7 separate regions of the Homo sapiens genome follow, and regions 1, 2, 3, 4, 5 and 7 are each reported to be linked to region 6. Evidence: microRNA targets listed by miRTarBase, many of them from high-throughput screens and not tested one by one. Region 6 holds a microRNA gene; each other region holds the end of a gene's coding sequence.
The links. Region 6 holds the annotated microRNA hsa-miR-7847-3p (CGUGGAGGACGAGGAGGAGGC, at 2,871-2,891, shown strand). A microRNA usually pairs through its seed, bases 2 to 8, with sites in the 3' UTR of a target mRNA and lowers its output. Matches are read on the target gene's strand: a 7mer-m8 pairs with bases 2 to 8, a 7mer-A1 pairs with bases 2 to 7 and ends in A, and an 8mer does both.

Region 1: miRTarBase lists HIGD2A as a target of hsa-miR-7847-3p. Seed matches in the 3' UTR shown: 7mer-m8 at 3,488-3,494.
Region 2: miRTarBase lists CHAC1 as a target of hsa-miR-7847-3p. Seed matches in the 3' UTR shown: 7mer-m8 at 930-936 and 7mer-m8 at 1,100-1,106.
Region 3: the mRNA of BICDL1 is a reported target of hsa-miR-7847-3p. Seed matches in the 3' UTR shown: 7mer-m8 at 1,453-1,459 and 7mer-m8 at 1,676-1,682.
Region 4: the mRNA of PTMS is a reported target of hsa-miR-7847-3p. Seed matches in the 3' UTR shown: 7mer-m8 at 894-900.
Region 5: miRTarBase lists CDK19 as a target of hsa-miR-7847-3p. Seed matches in the 3' UTR shown: 7mer-m8 at 3,101-3,107.
Region 7: miRTarBase lists TAT as a target of hsa-miR-7847-3p. Seed matches in the 3' UTR shown: 7mer-m8 at 2,457-2,463.

What each region holds. Positions count from the first base shown.
Region 1 is chr5:176,389,209-176,393,208 of GRCh38, reverse strand. HIGD2A (HIG1 hypoxia inducible domain family member 2A) reads right to left here. Exons shown (of 2, transcript NM_138820.4): 2 at 3,448-3,878. The coding sequence ends at 3,712. CLTB (clathrin light chain B) reads left to right here. Exons shown (of 6, transcript NM_007097.5): 6 at 264-708. The coding sequence ends at 435. It also overlaps a transcript of ARL10 not described here. Among named protein-coding and RNA genes, the nearest start is that of HIGD2A, 2.5 kb to the right of the region's middle. RefSeq lists enhancers at 3,256-3,939, 3,761-3,980, 3,773-4,000.
Region 2 is chr15:40,955,177-40,959,263 of GRCh38, forward strand. It overlaps CHAC1 (ChaC glutathione specific gamma-glutamylcyclotransferase 1), which reads left to right. Exons shown (of 3, transcript NM_024111.6): 3 at 197-1,336. The coding sequence ends at 598. Among named protein-coding and RNA genes, the nearest start is that of CHAC1, 3.7 kb to the left of the region's middle. RefSeq lists enhancers at 523-1,073, 2,576-3,112.
Region 3 is chr12:120,092,517-120,096,603 of GRCh38, forward strand. BICDL1 (BICD family like cargo adaptor 1) reads left to right here. Exons shown (of 10, transcript NM_001367886.1): 10 at 484-1,978. The coding sequence ends at 645. It overlaps RAB35 (RAB35, member RAS oncogene family), which reads right to left. Exons shown (of 6, transcript NM_006861.7): 6 at 2,583-4,087. Among named protein-coding and RNA genes, the nearest start is that of RAB35, 22 kb to the right of the region's middle. RefSeq lists enhancers at 281-924, 925-1,568.
Region 4 is chr12:6,769,721-6,773,802 of GRCh38, forward strand. PTMS (parathymosin) reads left to right here. Exons shown (of 5, transcript NM_002824.6): 3 at 201-279; 4 at 437-498; 5 at 672-1,232. The coding sequence ends at 722. LAG3 (lymphocyte activating 3) reads left to right here and starts at 2,800. Exons shown (of 8, transcript NM_002286.6): 1 at 2,800-3,190; 2 at 3,472-3,619; 3 at 3,977-4,082. The coding sequence starts at 3,133. RefSeq lists a silencer at 4,060-4,082.
Region 5 is chr6:110,610,823-110,614,822 of GRCh38, reverse strand. It overlaps CDK19 (cyclin dependent kinase 19), which reads left to right. Exons shown (of 13, transcript NM_015076.5): 13 at 157-4,000. The coding sequence ends at 288. Among named protein-coding and RNA genes, the nearest start is that of SLC22A16, 140 kb to the right of the region's middle.
Region 6 is chr11:1,877,235-1,881,321 of GRCh38, forward strand. MIR7847 (microRNA 7847) reads left to right here and starts at 2,811; the gene lies at 2,811-2,913. It overlaps LSP1 (lymphocyte specific protein 1), which reads left to right. Exons shown (of 11, transcript NM_002339.3): 2 at 2,853-2,990. RefSeq lists an enhancer at 1-106.
Region 7 is chr16:71,564,883-71,568,969 of GRCh38, forward strand. It overlaps TAT (tyrosine aminotransferase), which reads right to left. Exons shown (of 12, transcript NM_000353.3): 11 at 3,829-3,927; 12 at 778-3,402. The coding sequence ends at 3,262. It overlaps TAT-AS1 (TAT antisense RNA 1), which reads left to right and starts at 134. Exons shown (of 3, transcript NR_103852.1): 1 at 134-240; 2 at 1,169-1,319. LOC124903710 (a long non-coding RNA gene) reads right to left here and starts at 58. Exons shown (of 2, transcript XR_007065106.1): 1 at 11-58. RefSeq lists an enhancer at 554-1,085.

The DNA.
Region 1 (4,000 bases), not on the chromosome of region 6:
ACCTGAATGACAAGAAGCAGCAAGCCAGGAACAGGTCTGGGAGAAGCGTGTTCCAGGAAGAGGTGATAGCAAGTGCCAAGGTCCTGAGGCAGGACCAAGCTAGGCTTCCTCCTGCGCCAAGGCTGCCCTCCTCTGAAGTCAGGGGGGCACAAGGCTGGGGAGGACACAGTGCCCCAGAGTAGGCTGGGCAAAGCAGCCTTGCTCAAGGGCAAGGCTGGGGGAAAGCAGACTGCTATAAAAGCCCGTCCTATCTCCACCCGCAGGGCATCCGAGGAGGCTTTCGTGAAGGAATCCAAGGAGGAGACCCCAGGCACAGAGTGGGAGAAGGTGGCCCAGCTATGTGACTTCAACCCCAAGAGCAGCAAGCAGTGCAAAGATGTGTCCCGCCTGCGCTCGGTGCTCATGTCCCTGAAGCAGACGCCACTGTCCCGCTAGGTGCCTGCTAGGTGCATGGCCACAGAGCATGGGCTGGGCCTGGGCACAGGAGGAGCAGCTGCTTTGGTCGGGGTGGAGACTCGCAGCAGCTGCTACCCACAGCCTATTCCACTCCTCCCCATCTCCAGGCGCTGGGAGGGGGGCCCTCACCCCATCACGCCTCGCTCCCTCCTGGCCCTCTGGTCCAGCCCCTCACGCCTCCTCTCAGTCTACTCAATTGTGACTGTCCCTCCTGATGTATTTTTTTTCTTGGCTTAAAGGGTGTGTTGTTGACTCTTTTTACACTTATTTATTATCATTCTCACTTCTCTGGAAGCCACAACTGGTGTCAGGGCTCGGTTTGTGCTTAGAACTTTCCCAGCTTCATGACCTTGAGAGAAGGGAGAATGTTCCCCCATTTCCCAGCCAAGTGGGAGCCCCAAGCTCTCCATGTCTGTTGCCTCCACCTCCAGGAGGAAAGACAGCCTCTCGCAGAATGCTTTTGTAACCTCGATCCTTTAACAAGTCTGTGAGGTAAATTCTGTTATTCTCACCATATAACCAAGGACACCAAGGTTCCCAGAGGGGAAGTGGCTTGTAGTGGGAGGGAAAAGCGAGACCAGAGGTTCCTGGTGGTAGCTTCCTCCTAAGCCTGGGTAAGAGCCCTGAAGACCCATGAGACTCCCCTCCTTAGGGTTGGCTGGGACCTTCTGGATGTGGAGGGTCCACTGCCCTGTGTATTTCGCTTCCTCCTTCAACTGGGCTCATCTTGGATTTTGGATAAACAACCAGTGATCACACCTTCTTCCCCTTCAGCAGAGTTTGCAAACAGGACGTTCATGACCTGCATGATGTTTAAAAAGATTTGAGTAATTGCCAGTAAATATTAGCTTCCTAGGGCTTCTGTAAGAAGGTACATGAACTAGCTGGCTTAGAACAGAAATTTATTGTCTCATAGTTCTTGAGGCCAGAAATCTGAAATCAAGCTGTGGCAGAGCCATGCTCCCTCTGAAGGAGCTGGGGAAGGGTCTGTTCCACCTGCTTCTGGCTTCTGGTAGCCTCAGGCATCCCTTAGCTGGCAGACGCATCACCCCAATCCTGCCCCCATCAGGTGGCTGTTTGCACATTGCCTTCTAGGTATGTCTGTCTTTGTGGCCAAATCTTCGTTTTCTGTTTTTTTTCTCAAACAGGGTCTCGCTTTATCACTGAGGCTGGAGTGCAGTGGTGCAATCTCAGCTCACTGCAGCCTCAACTTCCTTGGGTCAGGCAATCCTTCCACCTCAGCCTCTCAGGTAGCTGGGACTACAGGCACGTGCCACCACATTTGGCTAATCTTTGTATTTTTAGTAGAGACGGGGCTTTGCCATGTCACCCAGGCTGGGCAAACTCCTGGGCTCAAGCAATTTATCCACTTTGGCCTCCCAAAGTGCTGGGATTACAGGGATGAACCATAGCACCCAGCCTAAGGTCAAATTCTAAGGCACTAGAAGGACTTCAACATTTTTGGAGGGGGACACCATGACACCAACACTTACAAACAGTGGTCATCACTCCATGTCCTTGTCTTGTATCTGGATGCCAAGGGTCACCACAGTGCACTGCTCTACATCTATCATCTCTGCCTCAAAGCTGAGAGAACATGGTGGAGGCAAGCAACTTAGCTGGCCCTAGTACAGCCCTCCACTGAGATCTAGACTGTTGGGGGGTTCAAGAAGGGGTGTGTCTTCACTCCCTTTTTCCTTCTGCCAGCTTGAAGCTGGTGTTGAAAACAGTACAATCACTCGGGAAGAGCGCAGGTCCTCAAATCCAACATTTGAGGAGCGCTGACCACAGACCAGGAATACTTGTTTGAAACTACATGAAGGAGGAACTAACAGGTCACCTCTCTTCTAGAGTGTGCTCAGGTCCTCAGCCTCCTCTTCCAGAACCCTCAAACACTATGTACACAAATCTCTGGAGAGCTTCGGGACTGTGTTCTTCCCACTGTACCAGACTGCTTCTCTGAGCCTGTTTCCTCTTCTATACTGTGTCAAGAACCAGATGGTCTAGGCTGGGCGTGGTGGCTCACGTCTGTAATCCCAGCACTTTGGGAGGCCGAGGTTGGGGGATTACCTGAGGTCAGGAGTTCAAGACCAGCCTGGCCAACATGGTGAAACCATGTTGTTTTAGTATTCTACTAAAAATACGAAATACAAAAATTAGCCGGGCGTGGTGGCACACACCTGTAATCCCAGCTACTCGGGAGGCTGAGGCAGGAAAATTGCTTGAGCCCGGGAGGCGGAGGTTGCAGTGAGCCGAGATTCTGCCACTGCACTCCAGCCTGGCTGACACAGTGAGACTCGTCTCAAAAAAAGAACTAGATGGTCTAGATCAGTGGAGCCCCATAGACTCTAGGGAGGTGGGAGCAGGGTGAGGAGGTTATGCGGAGTGGAGGGCAGAACCCTCTGCCTCTGACCCGACTATGGGAGGCCTCATCTGAAGGAAGGTTGTCCTACTGAAAGTCTGAAAAACTGCTGGCTAGACCAGTATTTTTCAAATGGCATTACTCTAGGCCCACTGAACTAGAATCTCAAGGAGTGACCTTGAGATTCTTTTTTTTTTTTTTTTTTTTTGAGATGGAGTTTTGCTCTTGTTGCCCAGGCTGAAGTGCAATGGCGCGATCTCAGCTCACCACAACCTCCGCCTCCCGGGTTCAAGTGATTCTCCTGCCTCAGCCTCGCGAGTAGCTGGGATTACAGGCACGCAACACCACGCCCAGCTAATTTTGTATTTTTAGTAGAGATGGGGTTTCTCCATGTTGGTCAGGCTGGTCTTGAACTCTTGACCTCAGGTGATCCGCTCGCTTCGGCCTCCCAGAGTGCTGGGATTACAGGTGTGAGCCACTGCGCCTGGCCAAATCTCTGCTTTCAAAGTGCCCTGGGTGGCTGTTACTAGGAAAGTTCGGGAATCACTAGACTACACGATTTCTAAGCACCACTCCAAAGTCCGTTTCCTCCAAAATCAAAGACCAAAAACCATGGGGATGATACTGAATTAAATACAAGTGGATTTTTAGAGTTTATTAAGCAGGGGAGTGGAGGGGAGATGTGGCACAAATAGAAGTATGTAACATTCAAACAACAGCATCTAGGATTTTTGAAAAAACTTTCGGTTACAGTTACACAAAGGGTCACTTCCTCCCCAGCGACACATGGGCCTCTCAAAGGAGAGGAGGGAGTAAGTCCCACGGTAGGGCCAGTGGTTGCTCCCTGGGTTTTGGAATCATTTCTGCGGAGCTTTCAAGGCCAGACCCTGGGCTTAGGGTCGAGACTTCATAGCAGTGACAGCCAGACCCAGCAAGATGGCTGCGACCGTGAAACCCTGGGCGGCGATCCGGGTGCGCATCATGAGCTGAGAGCGCTGGCTGTTGCCCCGGTGGAAGGAGTAGAGGCCGTAGGTGAGGGCGGCCGCCGTGGCCAGGCAACCTGAGGAGGGGACAAAGCAACTGGGAAACAGCAGGTCGGGCCCCGCAGGTCATTCCCCGCTTTGGGTCTCGCTTCCCCAAAGCCAAGATCTCTGGATCACAGCGGAGGGAGGGCGGCGAGGG
Region 2 (4,087 bases), not on the chromosome of region 6:
GCCACCACGCCTGGCCTTTCAACTGTTCTTAACAAAGAGAGTACAAGGGCTTGAGGTACTGCCACCAGATGGCTCATCAGCCGACCACAGCCTCCCTTATAGAGCACAGTCCTGGGTGGGGGTGGCATGTTAGGATAGGAGAGGGAGCAGCAAGGAGCTGTCATGACTGACCCCGGGTGTCCCTATTTCTTCCCAGGGCTGCACTTGGGGCGTGGCATACCAAGTGCAAGGGGAGCAGGTAAGCAAGGCCCTGAAGTACCTGAATGTGCGAGAGGCAGTGCTTGGTGGCTACGATACCAAGGAGGTCACCTTCTATCCCCAAGATGCTCCTGACCAACCACTGAAGGCATTGGCCTATGTGGCCACCCCACAGAACCCTGGTTACCTGGGCCCTGCGCCTGAAGAGGCCATTGCCACGCAGATCCTGGCCTGCCGGGGCTTCTCCGGCCACAACCTTGAATACTTGCTGCGTCTGGCAGACTTCATGCAGCTCTGTGGGCCTCAGGCGCAGGACGAGCACCTGGCAGCCATCGTGGACGCTGTGGGCACCATGTTGCCCTGCTTCTGCCCCACCGAGCAGGCTCTGGCGCTGGTGTGAGGGGCTGAGCCCCTGCGGGGAGTGCTCATGTGGACATCAGGGCCAGACACCCACTCCAGTGCACAAGACAGACTTGCGACCGCTTGAGCCCACTGAGCAGATATGGTGGGTGGCTGGAGGCTTCTCTTTCTCAGTCCCTGCCTGTCTGCCAGCCTGCAGCTCTCCTGCTTGACACTGACTTACTACTTGAAACTTTATTTATTGCACCATGTTGGTGTGGTGGGCAGGTGGAGGGCCTGCCCTGGACACAGGGGCCCTGCTGAGCAGTGGCCCCATCCTGGAACTTGACCAGATTCCCCCCAGTGCTGCTGCTAACCCCACACCACCCAGGCCTCCACCTCCCCAGGGAGTCTCCAAGAGCCTCGATCCTCTGCTCACTCAGCCCAGCCATCCATAGCCCTGGGAATTCCACCTGCCAAGGATCCCAGCAGGCTGGATGAGGGATAGTAGGGCATGAGGAGAAGGAGCCCTGTAAGGACTGAGGCCCCGGCCAGCCCTTCTCCTCCACCAGTTCCCCAGAGCAGAGCTGGAGCTGATGCCTGGACACAGCTGCTGAGCCTGGCCTGGGCCTCTTACCCACTTGGTTGTTTTCTTGTCCCTCTGTCTGTCTGTCTATCTACTTGTCTGTCTGGGCCACTCCTGCCTGTGTGTTGGTCTATTCCTGGGAAGCTCATCACTACAGGCCCTGGCAACCTTCCCAGTCTGTCCCATACTGTTACCCATAAAACTATCTCTTTATCTGTGCTGTGCCGGAATGTGGTTCTTTCTCAGATGGGGGTTTGGGGCAAGTGAGGTGGTGATGCCCTGGAAGGCTCCTAAGAGGGGAAAGGGCTCCCTCTTCCTCTCCTTCCCTCTCTTCCCAGGAGGGGCAGCTGGGCAGGCAGAATTAGCAGGTGACATCACTCTCATGGGTACAGTTCATGCCTTACGCATGCAAATAGTACCCCCTGAGTTGTGCAGAATTCAGCTCATGCTCTACTTGGCAGCCCTGTGAGCAGTGTCCTTGCCACCAACCTGGACTCTGTCTCATCCTGCCCAGCTGCCCCAAGGAGGCTGGCAGGCTTGGAGCTCAGACCAGCTCTTCCTCCAGCTGCAGGGCCAGCGGCTGCCTCTTCCTAACAGCTAGGCCAGAACCCTGGTGTCCTGCTAAAGGAGCACGTGGGTTAGGGTAGGGTGATGACAACTTCTAAGGCAAGGCTAATGGCAGGGACCTGTAGCCTGGAGGACCTGGTGTCCCTTTTACTTTCAGAGTCTGAGTGCTCACTGTTGCCTCCGGGAGTGTGGTGTTGCCTGTGCCTTCCCCATTGCCATCACCTGCCCTGGTTTACCCACACTGGAATGCGGGCCCCAAGTTTACCCCCTGCCTGTCCCCAGATGTTCTTGTCTAGCCCTTGGGGACAGATCACAGCTCCAGGATCTCAGCCTGGGCCTGAGCTCCTCATCAGGAGTGGCCTCTTAGTGCTACTCAATCCCTGAACTTGCAGAATGGGGCAGACCCAAAATGACAGGCTCTAGCAGCAGAAGAGCTTGAGGCCAAGGGCTGGGTGTGGTGGCTCATGCCTGTAATCCCAGTACTTTGGGAGGCCAAGGTGGGAGAATCACTTGAGCCCAGGAATTCGAGACCAGCCTGGACAACACAGTGAGACCCCATCTCTATAAAAAATACAAAGGAAATTAAAAAAAAAAAAAGTGCCTTGAGAGTCCAACCCAGCCTCCTCCTCATTGCCCAGTCACCTCGGAAAAAGCCTTCAGCCCCCTGGGTACAAGTTCACTGTGAGGGGACGATGCCGTGGGATGATGTATGGGGCAGGCTGGGTGGTATGTGTTGCTGCTGTTCTTGCGGCTGGTGTCCTGGATTGGTCTGGGTGTCTCCAGCAGGGTCAACTCCGATCAGGTTGTGCAGCCGTTGTGGCTGGGGAGGGTGCCATGCCTGGGCCGTGTGCTCATGTCTTGGCGGCCTTGTGTCTTGGCCATTGATGGGAAGAGTGTGGAGTCCAGCCAGCTTCTTCTGGGTGCCTGGTGAGGGCAACACAAAAGGAGGAGGCAGCAGGTGGCAGGGAGCCCTGGGCAGCTGCCTCCTGTGTTTCCTGGGCCTCTTGCCAGACAGCCAGAGCACAGCCCTGCTCCATCCTGGGAGCTGATGGTGGGGAGGGCTGCTTGCCAGCTGCACGTAGGGGGCTTTCACCCATCAAGCCATTCGATCAGCAAGTATTTCCTTAAGCTCCCACTGTGTGCCATGCACCATTCCAGGCACGGGGATACAGCGGTAAAGAACTCCTCCTCCTCAAGGAACTTGGAGTCTAGAAACTGATGGTGACCATTCAGCGTGGAATGGGAGAAGAGGGCCTTGAGCACCCAGAAAGGGCTTCTGACTTGAGCAGGGCAGTCAGGGAAGGCCTTCTTGGCTTTCTTGGAGAGGGAACCTGAGAAGGGGCCTCTGAGGAACAGAGAGTAAGGGAACAACACGTGCCTGAGGGGAGGCAAGCTCAGACCAGCTGGAACAGAGTGGCCCGGACAGGAGACACGAGCCAGACAGGTGGCAGGACTGCCGGCCTGGTGAATTGCGCTGTGCCATGCTGCGGGGTGGCATTCCTCCTGGGTCAGTGGGGGCCTCTGGTGGATTCTGAGAAGGGCAGAGATGTGCTTAAGAGAGAACACTGGCTGAAGTCAGATTGGAGGAGAGAGGCCAGAGGGAGCTGTAGGGTGCCCAAGCTGAGGTGTGCCAGTGGGAATGGACAGTGGAGGGATTGCAGAATTGTTTAGGGGTGAGGTTGACAGCATTTGGTGGCTGGTTTGATGAGCAGAGTGAAAGGAGGGTAGAGACAGTAGGGCTGGGGCTCCTGGGACAGTGGCAGATCTGGAAAGAGTCGGGGGTAGATAGCCTTGCGTTTAAGTTAGGGGTGCCTGTGAGGGGAGGAATGACTTCTACGGGGATGTTCAGGGCAGCTGGATATGTTGGTGTGGGAGTCAGGAGAGAAAGCTGGGCTGGAGTTAGAGACTTGGGAACCATACATGTGGAGACTGGGCTTAAAGCCCTGGTAGGGGAGGAGAGGAGAACAGGGCCCGGCCAGGCCCTGAGGACCCCAGCCGCGGTGGTCTGAGCAAAGCAAGAAGAGGTGTCGGGAACAAGCGCTGGAGAGGTAGGCGGAGAACGAGGAGAGGGCAGGGTGAGGAGAGCCAGGGTGGAAGGTGTCTCCAGGAGGTGCACAACATGGTCATGTTGCCAAGATGGCCAAGATGTCAAGAGAAACGAGGACAGAAGAGTGTCCACTGGATGAAATGCCAGGGGGGGTCCCTTGTGGCTTCAGTGAGAGCAATTTCAGGAACAGTATGGAAAGCCACAAGGCAGGGCTGAGGGGCCAGTGGGAGGGGAAGCAGCTTTCAGGAAACATGGTTGCTAAGAAGAGAGAGAAACAGGGATAACTGAGGGCACAGGAGTTGCGGGGGTCTCAGGACCCCTTCACAAATGAAAAATTGTGGAGGACCCCA
Region 3 (4,087 bases), not on the chromosome of region 6:
AAGGAAAAGGCAGGAGGAGCCCCTGAGGCCAGGCCATTGGGCTGGGGAGCTGTTAAGCTGAGGTGGCCCTAGGGCCTGCCGGGGCTGGGGGTGGCAAGCCAAACCGGAGGCACCAGCCAGGCCCACAGGACACAGGAGGCAGAGCCGTGAGGCCTGGTCAGAGCAGGTGGAGTGCTAGTGTGGAGACTGCAGGGAGAGACCACCCGAGCCATCAGCTGAGGACTGTGGCGGCCCAGCAGGAGTAACACTGTTGAGGAGAACCCAGCCCAAGCCTGAGGAGGCTGGAGGTGCCATACGGCTCCTGCGTGCGCCTGGTGTCTTGCCCACGCTCACCGCTTTCTTGGTCAGGGCAGTCCCGGCTGCAGCCTCTCACTCATCACATTCTCATCTCTCATCTGTCTGATGTTCCCACCTCCCTGTCCAGCCCCAGGGTTAGGTGAGAGCAGCTACTCAGTCCTGGCCACTGTCCCCTCCCCTCTGCAGGATGACATGCACAGGGTCATTGACCGGCAGCTGATGGACACGCACCTGAAAGAACGGAGCCAGCCGGCTGCTGCCCTCTGCAGGGGCCACAGCGCTGGGCGGGGGGATGAGCCCAGCATCGCTGAAGGCAAACGACTCTTCTCATTCTTCAGGAAAATTTAAGTTGGGAGGAGTCAGGCCACCAAAGATGGGTGGACTGGAGGCAGCTGGAAAGGCGGTGCAGGCAAGGCCTCCCCTGCAGCTTGCACCTCAGCAGCTGCCCTGCCCCTCATGCTAGGGCCCCATGGGTCCGGGAGGGCCTGCTCCCTTTCGTCGGTGGGGATGGAGACCTAGAGGTGGGGGCCTGCCTTGGCCACTGAAGGCTTCCCTTGGCCCACCGCCTGGCCAAGCCCACGCCTGGGCTTCTCCAGGACCACGTGCTTGAGCAGGGTTAGGCCACCTCCCAGAGGGGCCCCTTGGTGTTGGGCTTTGCAGCTCACACCCAACAGATCGCAGCCCACCCCCAGGCACTGCTGCCTCCTTGATTTTAGCAAATGGGGAACAGAAGGAATGGAGGCCCTTCTCTGCATGCCTCAGGAGGCCTGAGCCCCAGGGGCCTAGACCTGTGGGGGCAGCGGGCCAGGCCTGAGCCTCCATTCCTTCCCCAGCCCCTGGCCCAGGGTCAAAGGAGAGATGGCAGCCCCTCCCCCGCATGCATGCACCTCAGCTGGCAGGAGGCCAAGCCTCTGGCCGCAGGGTCTAAGAGCCGGGGCTTACCCAAGCTCAGCTGAGGCCACCCGAGCCCCAGGGAGGAAGAAGGCCCTGTCCCCCTGTCGCCACTGCTCTCCCTCCCAGCCTTCAGTCTCTGCCCCTTAGCAGGGCCTGGCCAGGCAGAGTGTTATCACCAGTCATCTGCAGGCTTTAGCCATCCAGCCCTTTCCCCTGCTCAGGGCTGGGGTTGGACGGGGTCTCCTCCTCCCACAGCTCCCTCCTCCACCCCTCACATACATACATAATTTCTTGGCCTAGCCAAACAAGTCCAGGCCACTGAATGGCACCAGAGGGGTCTGTGGTCAGCCACCCCACCTTGAGGGCAGCACAGGCACCACGGGGTGGAGGGGAGGGGGAGGCTGCCGGAAGCCTCCAGATGCTGCCTGCCTGCCTGCAGAAGCCTGCAGTGGCTGCTGCTCCTGCCTCTGCAGCCGCCCCTCCTCCTCCACCCAGGCCCCAACTCAGAGGCTCCGCGGCCCGGCCAGCCCTCAGCTGCTCACAACCGATTCAGTCTCCCTCCCTCCCTCACGTGGGGAAAGCACAGCAGGGATGCGCGGCAAGAATGTACCTGTAGATGTGTACATACCACAGTGCTGTAATTTTGTATGTAGCAATCATGTAAATACATGTATGGATTTTATAATATACATATATAAAAATCTATAAAGGCATATTTTTAGAAAAACAGCACACCACTGCTTCTTTTGAAAATAGTCTGAATAAGAATAAAATGAATTTCTACAGAGCTTCCTGCCTCAGTCTCTGGGTATTTGCGGGGGGCGGGTTTGGTCTGAATGCAGCTGACATGTCAGACTCACCACTGGCTGCTGCTGGAGAGGTAGCAATAGTGGTTCCCCTGCACCCGGGCCACCTCAGATGCTGGTACTTACTTAACCAAGGGATTTGGCCAGGAAGGGCATCCTCCCCTGCCCCTCCCGCCTGGCACTGCCCCCTGCCAGTGCTGCAGCGTGCCATCCGCAAGGCAGGCCTGCCAACGCTGCTTCCCAGGCCAGCAGGGCCCTAAAGCTTGGCAGAAACTTCAAGCCAGAAAGAAACCACGCCAGGCAAAGGCTTCCACTGCATCCTTCCAGGCATGTGGAGGATAAACACGGAGCTTCCCCTGGCATCTTACCACATGTGCTCCCAGTCCAACTAGGGGGAGACTCAACCCTGGCCCACCTGTTCATGGAGAAAATGGACCTGGCTTCTGGAAGTGTCCCAAGGGCCTCGACAGGCTCCTGTGCAAGACTTAGGCCAAGAACAGGGAAGAGCAGGACACGGTGGGTGGGAAGAAGCCACGGCCACTCAGCACATCTCTGGAGGGAGAGCAAACAGACCCTGGAAGAAAATTTGGCAGCTTGAACCTTTATTTTTAGTATTTTTTTAAAAAGCATAATTAGAAACTTTCAATACAGAAATACTCCTAGCAAACCATTGAAAAGTGGTGTTTGTTTGACAGGAATTTCACATCAGGTCCACTAGGACGTCGGTCCAGCCCTGAGTCCCCACCCCCACCCCATAACCCCCATTCATGCGTGTAACAGTGGGACAGGCACACTGTCATGACCAAAATCACCCCAATACCTGGGGCTGATGTCCAGCTGCCAGAAGCCATGGGGGCTTCTAGCCTGGGCTGGAAGCCCCCAGGAACCCCCCTCTTATTGCTTGAATTTGCAAGCACACCCTCGCTGGCCTCGCCTGATCGCTCAGAGGCCAGCATGCCCCCCGCCCACCGGCACAGGAGCCCCAGGCACCGTGCATCCTCAGGGCCCGTGGCCAACCAGGACAGTCCCAAGGACGGAGACCCCGCTTCTGCTCCTGCCGCCCCCGCCCCCGACCAGATGAGGCTGCCTGCTGGTCAGCCCTGCAGCCCCCTCCACAGCACCCTCCTTCCCAGGCCCATGGGGCTCCCCCACCCCATCCCGTGGCTCCAAAGTGAAGGCCTGTCCCAGAATCACCAGCTTTTGGCAGTTTGGGCAAGTGGAGAGTCGGTGAGAAGAAACCCCCAGTTTTTATTGATTAAAAACCCATCCACAGTGCTAACATGGAAACTGCAGTGTGATCTGTGATGTGATTGTCCAATCAGGGCTCTCCCTGGAAATCGCCTAGGAAAGGAAATCTAAGGAAACACATCCTGGTGTTAAACTCGGTTCTTCCCAGGTCACTTGATCCCTGTAGTGGGAGGGGAATGAGGTGTCCGGGCTGGGGGTCGGGGAGCAGTCATCAAGTGCAGATGACCCTGGTTGTTCTCCAGGGCACTGGGGCGTGTCAAAACTGGCCGCCCCAGCCATTCCTTCCCACCCGCCAGGAAATCCTCTTGCTACCTTTGTCCTGACAAAGGTTAGGACAGTGACCAGGGCCTGTCCATGGTCCCCACCCAGAGGCCCCAGGCATGCACTCCCCACAGTGCCCGAGGCTGCAGTGTAGACTCCTGACCTCCAGTGGGAGGCAACTCGGACAAGGGTGGGAGGCCCCTTCTCCGCTCCCACCAAGAAAGCCCAAGAGTCCAGCCCCACAATGGCAGGAAGCCATTCATTTTTTTCTAAAAACAGTGGACACAAGTGGGGTGGCCTCAACTTTTGCTGCTGTGCCAATCAAACCTCAGGGAAAGAAAATAATTGTGAGGAATTTAATTCACTTGATTTGGCTTCATTTTCTTGATCTGTTAAAATAATCCTCCCATAGCCCCCCTGCCAGCCCCATCTCTGCACGAACCTACCCCGACCTTTCTGTTGGAACTGAAACCTGTTGGTGTAAATGAGAAGCCATGGCTGCCCTGGGTTTGGAGCTCAGAGGCATCTAGAAGGCAGGACAAGAAATCTGTTGGCCAAAGGGCAAGACCTGCCACCTCTGT
Region 4 (4,082 bases), not on the chromosome of region 6:
CTCCCAATCATCTCATCCTTCCTCTGCTTTCCTTCCGAGGGTGCTGGGTCCTGCCGTTCCCCTGAGCCCTGTCACCCTTGCTGCCCCACCCTGTGGCCCATCCCAAGCCCTTTTATCACCCAGGCTCCAGTCCCATTGGTGGTGATGGTGGGCAAGGCATGCAGCCAGCCTGAGGCTACTCCCTCTCCTGGTCCCCACAGGAGGAGGAGAACGGGGCTGAGGAGGAAGAAGAAGAAACTGCCGAGGATGGAGAGGAGGAAGATGAAGGGGAAGAAGAAGGTGGGGAGGGGCAGGGGAGGCTGGGCTGGCAAAGTCTGGGCTCAAAGGAGAGCAGAGTCAGGGTGGGTTTGAAGACCTGAAGCAGGGCTGAGGGCGACCACGGGGGCTCTGCCAGAGCTTCCTGCCCTTCCCCAATGACCCATTTCTGGCTCCTCAGATGAGGAAGAAGAAGAAGAGGATGATGAAGGGCCCGCGCTGAAGAGAGCTGCCGAAGAGGAGGTTTGGGCTGGGTTGCTGGGCCTGAGGGGCTGTCAGGGATGCAGCCGGGCTGGGCGCCCTTTGGATTTGGACCCAGATCCCTGTGTGGCAGGGGTGGGGGCTGGAACAGGACCGGGACAGGGGGAGGTCTCCCCTCCCATTTTACAGCTCCCCCATTCTCTCCCTCTCCACAGGATGAAGCGGATCCCAAACGGCAGAAGACAGAAAATGGGGCATCGGCGTGAGCCCCTGCCAACAGGCTGGGGTTGGGAGGCCTCTCTGGGCCTGGAGGTGGGGGTGGGGGCAGCCAAGTCCAGCCACTCTTCACCTGGCTCCCTGCTCTGGGCCCTGCACCAGAGCTGCCACCCTCTTCTTTCTCCCCAGCCTTCTCATTTCCGCCTCTCCAGACACTGCGCCCTCCACCCTCACTCTGCCATTGTTCCACCTCCTGACCTGCTCCATCTGAGCTCTCCAGCTGGCCCCCAATTGCTCCTCTCTCTCTTTGCTCTCTTTCTCCCTCCCCTACCAGCCTCATTCTTCCTCCGGTAGCCTCTCCCACCTAACCTCTGCATCCCCCAGCCTCATGTCCTGCCCCATCCCTATCCTGCCTGATCCCTGGATCTCCCTCAGATCCCCTCTTCTCAGACAGCGCCAGGCCGGGGTGGGGCCGGGGTTGGGGCCGAGCCCCACAGCTGCCCCCCTCCCCTCCCTTTTTGTATAATTTAATAAAGAAATGGTCGCGCTTCTGTTTTTAACCTGTCTCCTGCTTTCCCGGGGGCTCCAGTCAGTGCGACAAAAGGGTAGAGAGGGAGGAGGGTGGCTGACCTCCCATTCTGCCAGGACCCTTCCCTTTGATACAAAAGCAGCAGCACACTCCTACCACCCACGACTCAAGAAGACAAGATCAGCCCTCCAGGGGTGGCCTGGAGCCCAGCTCTTCTGAGAGCTGACTTATGTCCTGTTTTGGATTCTCAGGGATGCTCCTCCCCAGCAATACACACTTCCCTGCTAACCCACACAAGACCTAGACACTGCTGAGCCCAGTGGAAAGCTACCAGCTCTATTGTGCTGAACCAGGCACAGAGAAACAGCCCAGAAACAGGAAGTCCTTCCCCTGAGCTGGGAGAGGGCTGGTAGTCCTGGGTCTCAGCCTGCTAGGATCTGGAGTGAGCTGCCTGGCATCAGAGATGCCCTCTGCCTGGCATGGAAGCGAGCTCCTTCCAGTCAAGCAGGGAAATCCTGGGTCTCGTGTCATCCCCAGGTCGGCTGTATGTTTCGTCACCTGCCCTCCAACTCTCCCTGGGCTGGGCTGGGGAGCGGGAGTTGTATGACTCTTGTCAGTCTTGGGCCTTCCCTAGTCCCACTGCCTCTGTTTCCCCTGAGTTTGATCTCTGTTAGGAGATTTCTAAGATTTCTGCATTTCTCCATCTCCGCATGGCCCTTGCCTTCTCCTCTTAGTTCGGAACCTCTGGACTGGAGGATGCTTCTGAGGGCATGGGGACCTGAGTTGGAGTGGGGAGGGGTGTTGACTCATCAACAGCATCATTTCTCCCAGGAGACGCCCGTAACTCATCCAAGGTCAGGACTACACACTGTCACGCACACAGGTACACTCACAGCTTTTATCTTCACGCTCCCTAACCTTGGCAAATTGTACAATTTCTTTGAAGCTCAGTTTCCTCATCTGTACAATGGGGAAAAGCATTAGATTTCATGAATTACTATAAGTAAAGTGTCCAATACAGTGCTTAGCACGTAATGAAGCCTCAATACAATGTAGTTATTCTCCATGCCCCACAAAGCTGGCATGCCTAGCCTCAGACCTACCATTTTTTGGGGTGCAGTAAGGCTTCCTGTCCACCATGTTCCCAGGGACATTGTACTGATGGGTGGAAAGGCAGGTCTAAAGGGGTCACGAAGTTCTGGGAGGTTAAGGGAACGAGGAAGGAGATTGAGCAACAAGGAAAGAGCTTGCCAAGAAGGAGGTGTGAATATTGGGACTGAGGAGGCAGCTTAGAGATGGGCAAGGGGGCAGTTCCAGGCAGAAATGGTTCGTGGAGGCAGAAGGTCCCTGGGAGAGGGAGCAGTCTGGAGGGTGGGGCAGGGGCGAGGAGGGGGAGGTGGGGAGACCCAGGACTGAGGAAGTAAACAAGGGGAGCGCCACCACAGAGGTGGAGAGGTGGAGGGTGCTGCTGCTGGGAATCAACCCCCTCAGACTTTCCACTGCGAAGCGAAACCGTAAGCCCTGGGGTGCGGGGGGCGGGCCGGGAGGAGGGGAAGTGGGGAAGGTGGAGGGAAGGCCGGGCACAGGGGTGAAGGCCCAGAGACCAGCAGAACGGCATCCCAGCCACGACGGCCACTTTGCTCTGTCTGCTCTCCGCCACGGCCCTGCTCTGTTCCCTGGGACACCCCCGCCCCCACCTCCTCAGGCTGCCTGATCTGCCCAGCTTTCCAGCTTTCCTCTGGATTCCGGCCTCTGGTCATCCCTCCCCACCCTCTCTCCAAGGCCCTCTCCTGGTCTCCCTTCTTCTAGAACCCCTTCCTCCACCTCCCTCTCTGCAGAACTTCTCCTTTACCCCCCACCCCCCACCACTGCCCCCTTTCCTTTTCTGACCTCCTTTTGGAGGGCTCAGCGCTGCCCAGACCATAGGAGAGATGTGGGAGGCTCAGTTCCTGGGCTTGCTGTTTCTGCAGCCGCTTTGGGTGGCTCCAGGTAAAACGGGGATGGCGGGAGGGTTGACCTCCAGCCCCACAGGAGGGGACCAGCAGGGATCTCTGTGGCCACAAAGGTCCTGAGGTCCTTAGCTCTGTGGATTCTTCTAATCCCTTTTTTGGGCAGTCCTTCCACCCCGAAAGCCTCTCTGGGCAGAGAAGAAACAGAAACCCAAGTTCTTCCTGCACCCTGTTTCTCCCTCGGGAAACACCCAGGCTCCTTCTCTACCCCTGCCTCTCGGCTCACGCCCCCTCCCCTTGGCCTCTCTTTTGCTCACCTAGTGAAGCCTCTCCAGCCAGGGGCTGAGGTCCCGGTGGTGTGGGCCCAGGAGGGGGCTCCTGCCCAGCTCCCCTGCAGCCCCACAATCCCCCTCCAGGATCTCAGCCTTCTGCGAAGAGCAGGGGTCACTTGGCAGCATCAGCCAGACAGGTATGCACCCCAAACTTGGGCAACAGGACCTCCGAATCCAGCACTCAACCCCACACCCGTGCCGGTCCTCTGTCCCCTGCCCTGAGGTGTCACTCCCTCTGAAGCCAGTGACCCAGTCTCCCTGCCCTCGCTTGCACCGTTCCTGCCCTTGCTCTGCAATCAGCGACCCTCACGCCAGCATCCCTTCTCTCCAGAAGTGGATGCGGCCAGTCCAACAGAGGGGTCGGGCGTGAGGGGACGGTTGGTGGTCAAGAGAACTCTTGGGGCGGGCTTTCTCATCCTCAACGGGTGGCTGCCTGCATCCTCCCGGGCTTCCTACCCCTGGAGCTTCTCAACTCCATTCTCTTTCCCGCCCAGTGGCCCGCCCGCTGCCGCCCCCGGCCATCCCCTGGCCCCCGGCCCTCACCCGGCGGCGCCCTCCTCCTGGGGGCCCAGGCCCCGCCGCTACACGGTGCTGAGCGTG
Region 5 (4,000 bases), not on the chromosome of region 6:
GCAAAATGTGTTAACAACTTAAGTTAGCTGTCAGCTATGTGTGTCTGAACCAGGAACCTAATGAAAACGGCTTATATCTCTATCCTACTGTGATGAGCATCTTGAGTCATCCTCTTCCTCCATCAGTAATTCCCTTTTCCTGTTTCCTTCTCCTAGCACTCCAGTTCTCGCCTGAATTACCAAAGCAGCGTTCAGGGATCCTCTCAGTCCCAGAGCACACTTGGCTACTCTTCCTCGTCTCAGCAGAGCTCACAGTACCACCCATCTCACCAGGCCCACCGGTACTGACCAGCTCCCGTTGGGCCAGGCCAGCCCAGCCCAGAGCACAGGCTCCAGCAATATGTCTGCATTGAAAAGAACCAAAAAAATGCAAACTATGATGCCATTTAAAACTCATACACATGGGAGGAAAACCTTATATACTGAGCATTGTGCAGGACTGATAGCTCTTCTTTATTGACTTAAAGAAGATTCTTGTGAAGTTTCCCCAGCACCCCTTCCCTGCATGTGTTCCATTGTGACTTCTCTGATAAAGCGTCTGATCTAATCCCAGCACTTCTGTAACCTTCAGCATTTCTTTGAAGGATTTCCTGGTGCACCTTTCTCATGCTGTAGCAATCACTATGGTTTATCTTTTCAAAGCTCTTTTAATAGGATTTTAATGTTTTAGAAACAGGATTCCAGTGGTGTATAGTTTTATACTTCATGAACTGATTTAGCAACACAGGTAAAAATGCACCTTTTAAAGCACTACGTTTTCACAGACAATAACTGTTCTGCTCATGGAAGTCTTAAACAGAAACTGTTACTGTCCCAAAGTACTTTACTATTACGTTCGTATTTATCTAGTTTCAGGGAAGGTCTAATAAAAAGACAAGCGGTGGGACAGAGGGAACCTACAACCAAAAACTGCCTAGATCTTTGCAGTTATGTGCTTTATGCCACGAAGAACTGAAGTATGTGGTAATTTTTATAGAATCATTCATATGGAACTGAGTTCCCAGCATCATCTTATTCTGAATAGCATTCAGTAATTAAGAATTACAATTTTAACCTTCATGTAGCTAAGTCTACCTTAAAAAGGGTTTCAAGAGCTTTGTACAGTCTCGATGGCCCACACCAAAACGCTGAAGAGAGTAACAACTGCACTAGGATTTCTGTAAGGAGTAATTTTGATCAAAAGACGTGTTACTTCCCTTTGAAGGAAAAGTTTTTAGTGTGTATTGTACATAAAGTCGGCTTCTCTAAAGAACCATTGGTTTCTTCACATCTGGGTCTGCGTGAGTAACTTTCTTGCATAATCAAGGTTACTCAAGTAGAAGCCTGAAAATTAATCTGCTTTTAAAATAAAGAGCAGTGTTCTCCATTCGTATTTGTATTAGATATAGAGTGACTATTTTTAAAGCATGTTAAAAATTTAGGTTTTATTCATGTTTAAAGTATGTATTATGTATGCATAATTTTGCTGTTGTTACTGAAACTTAATTCTATCAAGAATCTTTTTCATTGCACTGAATGATTTCTTTTGCCCCTAGGAGAAAACTTAATAATTGTGCCTAAAAACTATGGGCGGATAGTATAAGACTATACTAGACAAAGTGAATATTTGCATTTCCATTATCTATGAATTAGTGGCTGAGTTCTTTCTTAGCTGCTTTAAGGAGCCCCTCACTCCCCAGAGTCAAAAGGAAATGTAAAAACTTAGAGCTCCCATTGTAATGTAAGGGGCAAGAAATTTGTGTTCTTCTGAATGCTACTAGCAGCACCAGCCTTGTTTTAAATGTTTTCTTGAGCTAGAAGAAATAGCTGATTATTGTATATGCAAATTACATGCATTTTTAAAAACTATTCTTTCTGAACTTATCTACCTGGTTATGATACTGTGGGTCCATACACAAGTAAAATAAGATTAGACAGAAGCCAGTATACATTTTGCACTATTGATGTGATACTGTAGCCAGCCAGGACCTTACTGATCTCAGCATAATAATGCTCACTAATAATGAAGTCTGCATAGTGACACTCATCAAGACTGAAGATGAAGCAGGTTACGTGCTCCATTGGAAGGAGTTTCTGATAGTCTCCTGCTGTTTTACCCCTTCCATTTTTTAAAATAAGAAATTAGCAGCCCTCTGCATAATGTAGCTGCCTATATGCAGTTTTATCCTGTGCCCTAAAGCCTCACTGTCCAGAGCTGTTGGTCATCAGATGCTTATTGCACCCTCACCATGTGCCTGGTGCCCTGCTGGGTAGAGAACACAGAGGACAGGGCATACTTCTTGTCCTTAAGGAGCTTGTGATCTGTGACAGTAAGCCCTCCTGGGATGTCTGTGCCATGTGATTGACTTACAAGTGAAACTGTCTTATAATATGAAGGTCTTTTTGTTTACTTCTAAACCCACTTGGGTAGTTACTATCCCCAAATCTGTTCTGTAAATAATATTATGGAAGGGTTTCTATGTCAGTCTACCTTAGAGAAAGCCAGTGATTCAATATCACAAAAGGCATTGACGTATCTTTGAAATGTTCACAGCAGCCTTTTAACAACAACTGGGTGGTCCTTGTAGGCAGAACATACTCTCCTAAGTGGTTGTAGGAAATTGCAAGGAAAATAGAAGGTCTGTTCTTGCTCTCAAGGAGGTTACCTTTAATAAAAGAAGACAAACCCAGATAGATATGTAAACCAAAATACTATGCCCCTTAATACTTTATAAGCAGCATTGTTAAATAGTTCTTACGCTTATACATTCACAGAACTACCCTGTTTTCCTTGTATATAATGACTTTTGCTGGCAGAACTGAAATATAAACTGTAAGGGGATTTCGTCAGTTGCTCCCAGTATACAATATCCTCCAGGACATAGCCAGAAATCTCCATTCCACACATGACTGAGTTCCTATCCCTGCACTGGTACTGGCTCTTTTCTCCTCTTTCCTTGCCTCAGGGTTCGTGCTACCCACTGATTCCCTTTACCCTTAGTAATAATTTTGGATCATTTTCTTTCCTTTAAAGGGGAACAAAGCCTTTTTTTTTTTTGAGACGGAGTGTTGCTCTGTCACCCAAGCTGGAGTGCAGTGGCACGATCTTGGCTCACTCCAACCTCCACCTTCCAGGTTCAAGTGATTCTCCTGCCTCAGCCTCCCGAGTAGCTGGGACTACGGGCACGCACCACCACGTCTGGCTAATTTTTGTATTTTTAGTAGAGATGGGGTTTCACCCTATTGGTCAGGCTGGTCTTGAATTCCTCACCTCAGGTCATCCGCCTGTCTCGGCCTCCCGAAGTGCTGGGATTATAGGTGTGAGCCACCGCACCCAGTTGGGAACAAAGCCTTTTTAACACACGTAAGGGCCCTCAAACCGTGGGACCTCTAAGGAGACCTTTGAAGCTTTTTGAGGGCAAACTTTACCTTTGTGGTCCCCAAATGATGGCATTTCTCTTTGAAATTTATTAGATACTGTTATGTCCCCCAAGGGTACAGGAGGGGCATCCCTCAGCCTATGGGAACACCCAAACTAGGAGGGGTTATTGACAGGAAGGAATGAATCCAAGTGAAGGCTTTCTGCTCTTCGTGTTACAAACCAGTTTCAGAGTTAGCTTTCTGGGGAGGTGTGTGTTTGTGAAAGGAATTCAAGTGTTGCAGGACAGATGAGCTCAAGGTAAGGTAGCTTTGGCAGCAGGGCTGATACTATGAGGCTGAAACAATCCTTGTGATGAAGTAGATCATGCAGTGACATACAAAGACCAAGGATTATGTATATTTTTATATCTCTGTGGTTTTGAAACTTTAGTACTTAGAATTTTGGCCTTCTGCACTACTCTTTTGCTCTTACGAACATAATGGACTCTTAAGAATGGAAAGGGATGACATTTACCTATGTGTGCTGCCTCATTCCTGGTGAAGCAACTGCTACTTGTTCTCTATGCCTCTAAAATGATGCTGTTTTCTCTGCTAAAGGTAAAAGAAAAGAAAAAAATAGTTGGAAAATAAGACATGCAAC
Region 6 (4,087 bases):
GGAATAGTGAGGGGGTGAGGTCATGGGGAGGGGGCCCGCATGACTCATATCCTGGGGTAGGGGAAAGGGAGGAGACGTAGAAGGGGCCCAGAGGCCTCCACGTCCTCAGGCTGCTGGGTCAGAGGCCAGGGGCTGGCCGGGCTTCTCCCCAGCACTGGGTTTTAGGGGAGACACCAGGAGATGCTTACTCTGCATCCCCTACTCTGTCCCCCAGGCCCCTAGCCAGGGAGAGCTCAGTCGGAGTGATCCTCCAGGGGCCCAGCTCTGCAGGGACGATGTTCCCAGAGTACACACCTGGGCCTCGTGCCAGGGCCGGCACCGCCGTTGTCGGGGCAATGGCAAGGCAAACAGTCAACGTTTGCCTCACTAAAGTGAGGCTGCGGCACCCTGAAGGGATCCCTGGAGGGGGACGTGGTCCCCTTGTTCCCAAGCCTGTCTGCACACGCACGTGGATGTCAAAGGTTCCCGTGTGTGAGCACGTGCATACTTGTATGTGCATGGGGTGCGGGCATGTATGCCTGTGTGGCTGGAGCGTGGGCTCGTGGAGAACGTGTGTGAGTTGGGTGTGCACCTGCGTGTGCCCCAGGCCTAGGGAGTCCTGCGCCCGGCCGCACTCCATGTGTTGGGCATGAGCTGTGAGCAGAGTGAGGGCCTTTGTGGGGCTGTTGGGGCCCGGACTGCTTGCCCATAGGGGTGGACCTGAGGAAACGTGTGCACACGAGCTTCTGGGGTCTCTGCGCCAATGTGTACTTCCAAGCCCCGCCTCCCCTATGGCTTGGTGGAGGGGGTCTGTGGAGCTGGAGTGAGGGCCCTGGACCCATCGGAAGCCCAGGTCCAAGGAGGAGCATGGGCTCCCTCTCATGCCCCAGGCCCAGGGACACACACCCCAGCTAAGCCCTTGCTCACATGGAGGGGCTGGGACATGGGAACACGGGGAGCAATATGGCCAGGCTTCCCCTCCATGGAACCCCTCCACCTCCTCAACACTCTGCCCCAGCCTGCGCCGCCCTCTGTGTGGAGGGGCTGGGGCGTGAGTGAGCACGAGGGCCCCTGCGCCCCAGGCTCTGCCTCCTCAGGTGGAACAAGGCCCAGCAGCCCCCAGCCATGCGGAGGCCGGCAGAAGCGGGAAGCTGGGCCTCATCTGCCCGGATGATGGGAGCCAGGTGTGGGGAATTAAGTGGCTTCCTCGGGGGCCGGGAGTTGAAGGCACTTCTGAGGAGCAGGACAGGCAGGCGGATTCGGGGGCGCGGGGGGCGGGGTGCACAGGCGGCTGGGTTTGCGTGGCTGGAGTCCCCTGTGGCTTCGGTGGGGGGAGTGGGCCTTGAACTCGGGCCTGTGGAAGGGCCTGGCTTTTGTCTGAGAGGCTTAGGGGAGACCTAGGAGAGATTAGATCACGCGCTGGCAGGGCTGTCTGGCCAGGGGACTGGGGCCCAGTGGGGATCAGGCTGCAGGGTCAGGCAGCGGCCACTGGCCGGGAAGAACTGAGACCCCAGTGGGGAGACCCCAGCCCTGCTCCCTGTTCTGGCCTGGGCTCCCTCCCTGGGTCTGGGATAATAAGCCCTGTAGGAGTGTAGAGACCCTGGACCCCCTCTCAGGCTCTAGGAGGGCGATGGGAGGCAGGGCCATGACAGCTGAGGCTGCGGTGTCTGCAGGACCTGGACCATCTGAGAGCTGCTGGGCCGGGGCTCTGATGCCCAGGTCCAGGCCAGCCTGTGCCTACCTCTGTCCCTGAGGGGGGCGCGTGGGACCCCAAGAAGCCATGGTTTCAGGCTCTGAGGGCAGAAGCACTCCCTTACCTCAGTTTCCCCATTTTTGAAATGGCTCAATCGGCTGGGTGCGGTGGCTCATCCCTGTAATCCCACCACCTTGGGAGGCTGAGGCGGGCGGATCACCTGAGGTCGGGAGTTCAGGACCAGCCTGACCAACATGGAGAAACCCTGTCTCTACTAAAAAATACAAAATTAGCCGGGTATGGTGGTGCATGCCTGTAATCCCAGCTACTCAGGAGGCTGAGGCAGGAGAATCGCTTGAACCCAGGAGGCGGAGGTTGTGGTGAGCCCAGATCACACCATTGCACTCCAGCCTGGGCAACAAGAGTGAAACTCCGTCTCAAACAAACAAACAAAAGAAACAGCTCAGAGAGACTCCGCAGAGGGCTCTGAAATAAGGATGGGGTGGGGTTGGGTGAGCCGACCCTGTAAGGTGCCCCCAGCTATGGGGTTAGGCCCAGGCAGGACCCATGAGTCTGCGGAGCTTCTGTGAGCGGGGCTGGTGGTGGGACAGGAGGTGTCCTGCCTGGACGTGCTCAGGCCCTCCTTTCCTCAGCCTTCGACCTCCCCTTTCTCCAACACGCCCTGCCTTTGGGGTGCAGGAGGGAGCACCCGCAGGTGGGGTGGAGGTGCCGCCTGGCGGTGGGCTGCGGCCAGTCTCCCTGGACTCCAGTATCTTCTTCCTGGGCCCTCCAGGGTCACCTGGGTCTAGGTCCTGGTTCTACTTAGGGAGGGAGGCAGGCTGGGAGAGGGGGACAGAGGGCCTTTTGTCCTGTCCTTGAGTTTCTTCAGGCTTGAATGGGCCTTGGAGTCCCACCTTCATCCCCACAGGGCACAGGGGTGCCCAGATCCTCACAGGGCCCCAGGACCCTCGCCTGGGCCAGAGGGCACCTCATGACCACGTGGGCAGCCTCTATTTAAAGATGGACAAGGTGAGGCCTGAGGGCCGGCCTGGGACTGACCTCGTGGACAGGGCTGCCTGCACCGTGTGGCCCCAGCAAGGCCTGTGTAGATGGGAGGAATGGGTGCAAAACAGCACCTGTGTCGGCTGTGGCGTGACTGTCCCTCTGTGTCCCCCACTAGGCCCACTGCTCAGTGGAGCGTGGAGGACGAGGAGGAGGCCGTCCACGAGCAATGCCAGCATGAGAGAGACAGGCAGCTTCAGGCCCAGGACGAGGAGGGAGGCGGCCATGTCCCCGAGCGGCCGAAGCAGGAGATGCTGTGAGCAGCCCCATAACGCGTGCCTGGGCTCTAGCCCCTATCCGTGTACCCTGGGGCCTGGGCAGAGGGGGAGGTCAAGGGCCTGGGCTTGGGGGTTCCAGTGCAGGATGAGAGCGAGGAAGGGCCCCCAGGAGCAGGCGTGGGAGTGGGTGAGTGCTCCTGGGGCGAGGGTGGCCACAGCCCTAGAGGAGGGTCTGCCAATACCTGGCTGCCTCCTGGGCGCTGACCCAGGCTCTGTGTCCGTGCCCTGGCCCTTGCTCGGACCGCCTCTGACCCCAGCCACGCAGCCTGGCCGAGCCCCCCACCAGACTCCCCCGCCAGTGACTCACAGAGCCACGTCCAACTTGGCGGCCAGGCTGGCTTGCTTCCTCCTTGGGCCCAGGAGGCCTCCGCGGCTGGGCTGGGCTGTTTTTCCAATAATGCTTCCCTTCCTTCTGGCCTCTTTTGTTCCATTTTCTCCAAGTCAGCAGCCTTGGGCAGAGTGGGGTTCAGCGGTCACCATAGTCAGGCCCTTGGCCACCCCCACCAAGGGCCCCAGCTATCCAGGGGCTCCCCCTGCCACATGGGAGGCCTGAGAAGTCGGGGCTTAGGAGGACCTCATGTAGGGTCCTCATGTGGGGACCAGGGCAGCCCTTGGGGAGCCCCAGGATGATGGGGGAGGCACAGCCCTGCCCTAGGGAGCCCCAGACTGATGGGGGAAGCACAGCCCTGCTGTTAGGGAGCCACAGGCTGACGGGGGAGGCCCAGCCCTGCCCTAGCGAGTCCCAGAGTGATGGGGGAGGCACAGCCCTGCTCTTAGGGAGCCACAGGCTGACAGGGGAGGCACAGCCCTGTCCTCAGGGAGCCCTACACTGATCGAAGAGGCACAGCCTTACCCTCAGGGAGCCCCAAACTGATGAGGGAGGCATAGCCCTGCCCTCAGGTAGCCCCAGGCTGATGGAGGAGGCATAGCCCTGCTGAGCCTCAAGGAGTCCTGGACTGATGGAGGAAGCACAGTTCTCAGGCTGCCCCAGAACTGACGGGGGAGGCATAGCCCTGCCCTCAGGTATTCTGACCACAGGAGACACAGCCCAGAGCCAGCTCTGTGGCAGACAGGG
Region 7 (4,087 bases), not on the chromosome of region 6:
TAACCCTCACCTGCAGCTCAGATTCTACGCCGGCGCCCGGAGCTGTGTCCTGTTGCCTAGCGACGGCGCATGCGCACTGACTAGCGCAGCCCCCTAAACATGCATCCGCGCCTGCGCAGCCGCGGGTCGCCCAGGGTTGGGATGTTGGTGTCGGCTGGGGGCTGCTGTGAGGCGCTTGGTAGCACCCAGTCCTGATACTCTCCAGTTACCCGGTAGGCGGGGCTCGGACACAAAGAAAAGGTGAATTCGCAGCTGAGAGCCCTTGTTTCCGGTCCTTTTTTTTTTTTTTTTGAGATGGAGTCTCGCTCTGTCACCCAGGCTGGAGTGCAGTGGCGCCATCTCGGCTCACTGCAAGCTCTGCCTCCGGTGTTCAAGCGATTCTCCTGCCTCAGCCTTCTAAGTAGCTAGGATTACAGGCGCGCGTCACCACGCTTGGCTAATTTTTGTATTTTTAGTAGAGCCGAGGTTTCACCAAGTTGGTCAAGATGGTCTCAAACTTCTGACCTCGTGATCCGCCCGCCTCGGCCTCCCAAAGTGCCGGGATTACAGGCGTGAGCCACCGCGCCCGGCCGTCTCCGATCTTTACACGCATTCTTCGTGTTATCTGAAGACACTCTGACGCCACCACCCAAAGCAACTGGCAGTTGACTCTTGGCAATTTTAAGCTTGTGTGGAAAGCAGCCGCCGCCCGGTAGCTCCTTTTTATCTAGAGACACTCAGGATGTGGGGGACACCCCAGCAATGCCATCCCTCCTTTGACCTCCAGAGCGCGCAGAATTACAAAGTTGAGTAATACTTTATTTGAAAAAATGAAAAGTGCACACACACACACACACACACACACTTACATAGGCACAGTATAATCTGGAAGTATGACCAGCAAATGATAACTGATTCCCTCAGGGGAGAAGAAACTGGGTGGCTGAAGGACAGGAATGAGAAAGAAGGACAGTTGCGTTTGTTTGTATCGTTTGAAATTGTCCAGTGTGTATGTGTTCTTTTCAAATGTTTGAAGAACCATTGGCTCCCTTATCAAAATGTAAATACCAAGGAAAATCAGGAATTTAAGAAGTCTAAGAATTCTGTAATGCTGGGTAGAATTTTCTGTACGTGTAAAACTAAAATGTCTTTTGTAAATCACTGAGTCTTCCTGTTTATTTCTGGTTAGAGATCTTTGGGGGCTTGGATGGAGGAACAGGAAAAGAGGAGCCAGGCTTTTTTGGAAAATTGGCGGCAGCGGTGGCATACGGGAAACTGAAATCTTTATCTAATCTCATCCTTTGTATATTCGTCTTGGATTTGCTGAAGAAAATTAAAAGGTAAATTTTGCTGTGAGCTCACTGAACTCAAATTGAAAGGGAACATATGCTGTTTATTTTTGTGAAGGACATTAATTGGGTGTGACTGGCAGGGTTGAGACCTGAAGTTCCTCTTTTAGATAAGGAAAATTTCCCTTGGTGAGAAATCTCTAGACTAGTTATGATAGATTCCTAACCCCCAACCTTGAAAGGTAACTTAAGGCTCCCTCCTCTAAGGGAAGGGCTGAAGAAAAAATTAAACAGGCAACTGTGCCTATGAAGATTTGCGAAAAAAAAAAAAAAAAAAAAACATCTAGGACACTTCTCATTCACTGGGTCAAGCCAGAGCCATCAACTTTGTGACCTAGTGAGTGGTTAGTGGATATAGGCAAGCGTAGTAACTTGGGACCAGAGGTTAGGGATCCAGAAAGTTGAAAATGTAAAGACAAAGGCCAGAGGTTATAACTTACTGCCTCTTGGTAAGTAGGAAGCCAGAAGTTGAGCTCCCAAATAAAATGTTTTAGGAACTGTGGTTCTTAAGTAACTCCAAAAGTCAGTACATTTACAAAGAAGTAAATGAAACCTCATAGGTAATGAAACAATGAGACTGAGGAGTGCCTGGGATTAGAAATTCCCAAACGGAGAAAAAAACACATCACAGAAGAGCCATACTTGGTGAAATTTATTAAAAAAAAAAAAAGAAAAACAATAATTTATGCCCTTGGCAAAATAAAAGATCTTATCAATATAAATGTTTCTTAGAAAATGTATGAAAAGATAATATATATTAATAAATCAATATTAACATTACAGCAAAAGTAATAATGATTATATAACAATGACAAGTGAAGATATTTCTGGCCCTTACACAGTAGTATTTCTGGAAGGTCTCTGATTCCTGCTTGCTCTAGTACAGGCGTGCTCTCACTTTAAGAAAGCCTGATGCCGCTGGGCGAGGTGGCTCACGCCTGTAATCCCAGTACTTTAGGAGACCCAGGCGGGCAGATTGCCTGAGGTCAGGAGTTTGAGACCAGCCTGGCTAACATGGTGAAACCCTGTCTCTACTAAAAATACAAAAATTAGCCGGGCATGGTGGCTCACGCCTGTAGTCCCAACTGCTTGGGAGGTTGAGGCAAGAGAATCGCTTGAACCCAGGAGGTGGAGGTTGCAGTGAGCCGAGATCGCGCCACTGCACTCCAGCATGGGCGACAGAGCAAGACTCCATCTCAAAATAAAGAAAGAAAGAAACAAAGAAAAGAAAAGCTTATATTGAACTTCTCTAAAAAAAGAAAAAAAAGAAAGCCTGATGCACACAAATCTAAATTTGGCAAGTCGATCAATTAAAGGATATTTATTTGCATCACAAAATAATTCTTTACTCCCCCCAAAAATCAATAAAAAGTTCAAATAGCAACTTTTCCTAATGTGTTTAAAATGTAATCACCAAATACATGTGTCCCCAACTTCTTTCCAGTTATAATTCTATTGTGTAAAGTGAGGTATACCTGAAGTGAGGCAATAAGAGAGTTGAGCTTCAGACCTGCCTGGAGAGAGCGTGTTCTTTCTTAGAGTCTGAGGAAATGGTTGGGGGCACAAATTCTCTCAATCTTTTTCTTTTCCCTCATCCTGAGCTCTTATTTTCTTGTCTCAACTGCTTTCTGGTAAACTTTGTTCACCTGGTACTTTCAAGAAAAAAAGAAGGAAATCTTACGAGAGGGAGGCAGATTAATGAATTAGTGAGTCACTCTAGCAGCGCAGAGCAAGGGAGAATCTGCGATGTGAATGAGGAGGATCTGAGTGTGGGTGTGGTTGTACTTGGGGAAAAGCAGGAACAATCTTGAACCCTTGACATGGTGCATTTGAGGCCCCTCTCCCAGTAGGGCCACCTGAGTCCCTGAGGAGCCGCAAGGCCTAGTCCAGCCTTCCCTAGATGGGACACATCCTCAGGAGAATGGATGCAGGCCTATTTATCACACTCCTCCTGGCTGCCTTCAGCACAATGGTAGTGCTGCTCACAGAACTCCTGGATCCGGCTGCACGCCTCCAGCATCATCACCTCGGGGACTGTGATGACCACTCGGATGAAATTCGGGTACTCAAAGCACTGCAAAAAGAAGAGTCTGTTACTTTCAGAGCAATTGAGTCTGGTACTGGACCACCCTAAAATGGTCAGGACCCTGATCCACAAGAAGTGGTACCATTTCATCAGGGCCATCAGTTCATTCAGCTCCCATGACTGGGATGCTAAGTCAGCAACTGAGTTCATTCATCTTAAAATGACTTGTGGGACAGGATCAATTTCCTCTCACCTAGAACGTTTGTTTACAACTTTTCTTCCCAGTATGGATGGGATTATGATGGGGGGGAGAAGCAAATTTTAAATAGGATCCATGAGACACATCAGTTTGAATCTTATCAAATGAGAAGACATTTTGTTGGAGGAGAAAAGATCAGGCTAAAAACCAGCTCAGAACTTGCTTCTGGGGCTCTAGAAACTGTTGAGAATGTCCTGAGGGACACAGGCACCCACCGTTGCTGGGAGGCAGTGGACAGACTGCTCAGCAACTAACCGCTCCGTGAACTCCACATCGTTCTCAAATTCTGGGAAATGTTCCATCTCAATTCCAACCTATACCAACAGGAGGGAGAGGCCAACTTATCAGAAGGAGGGAGAACAGGCCAATTTCCTGTGCCAGAAATTAAGGTAGGGGCTACTTTAAAAGATATCTTGGAACTGTGCTACTGATCACTGATAAATAAGAGGGCTAATATTTATGGAATTTTTCTCA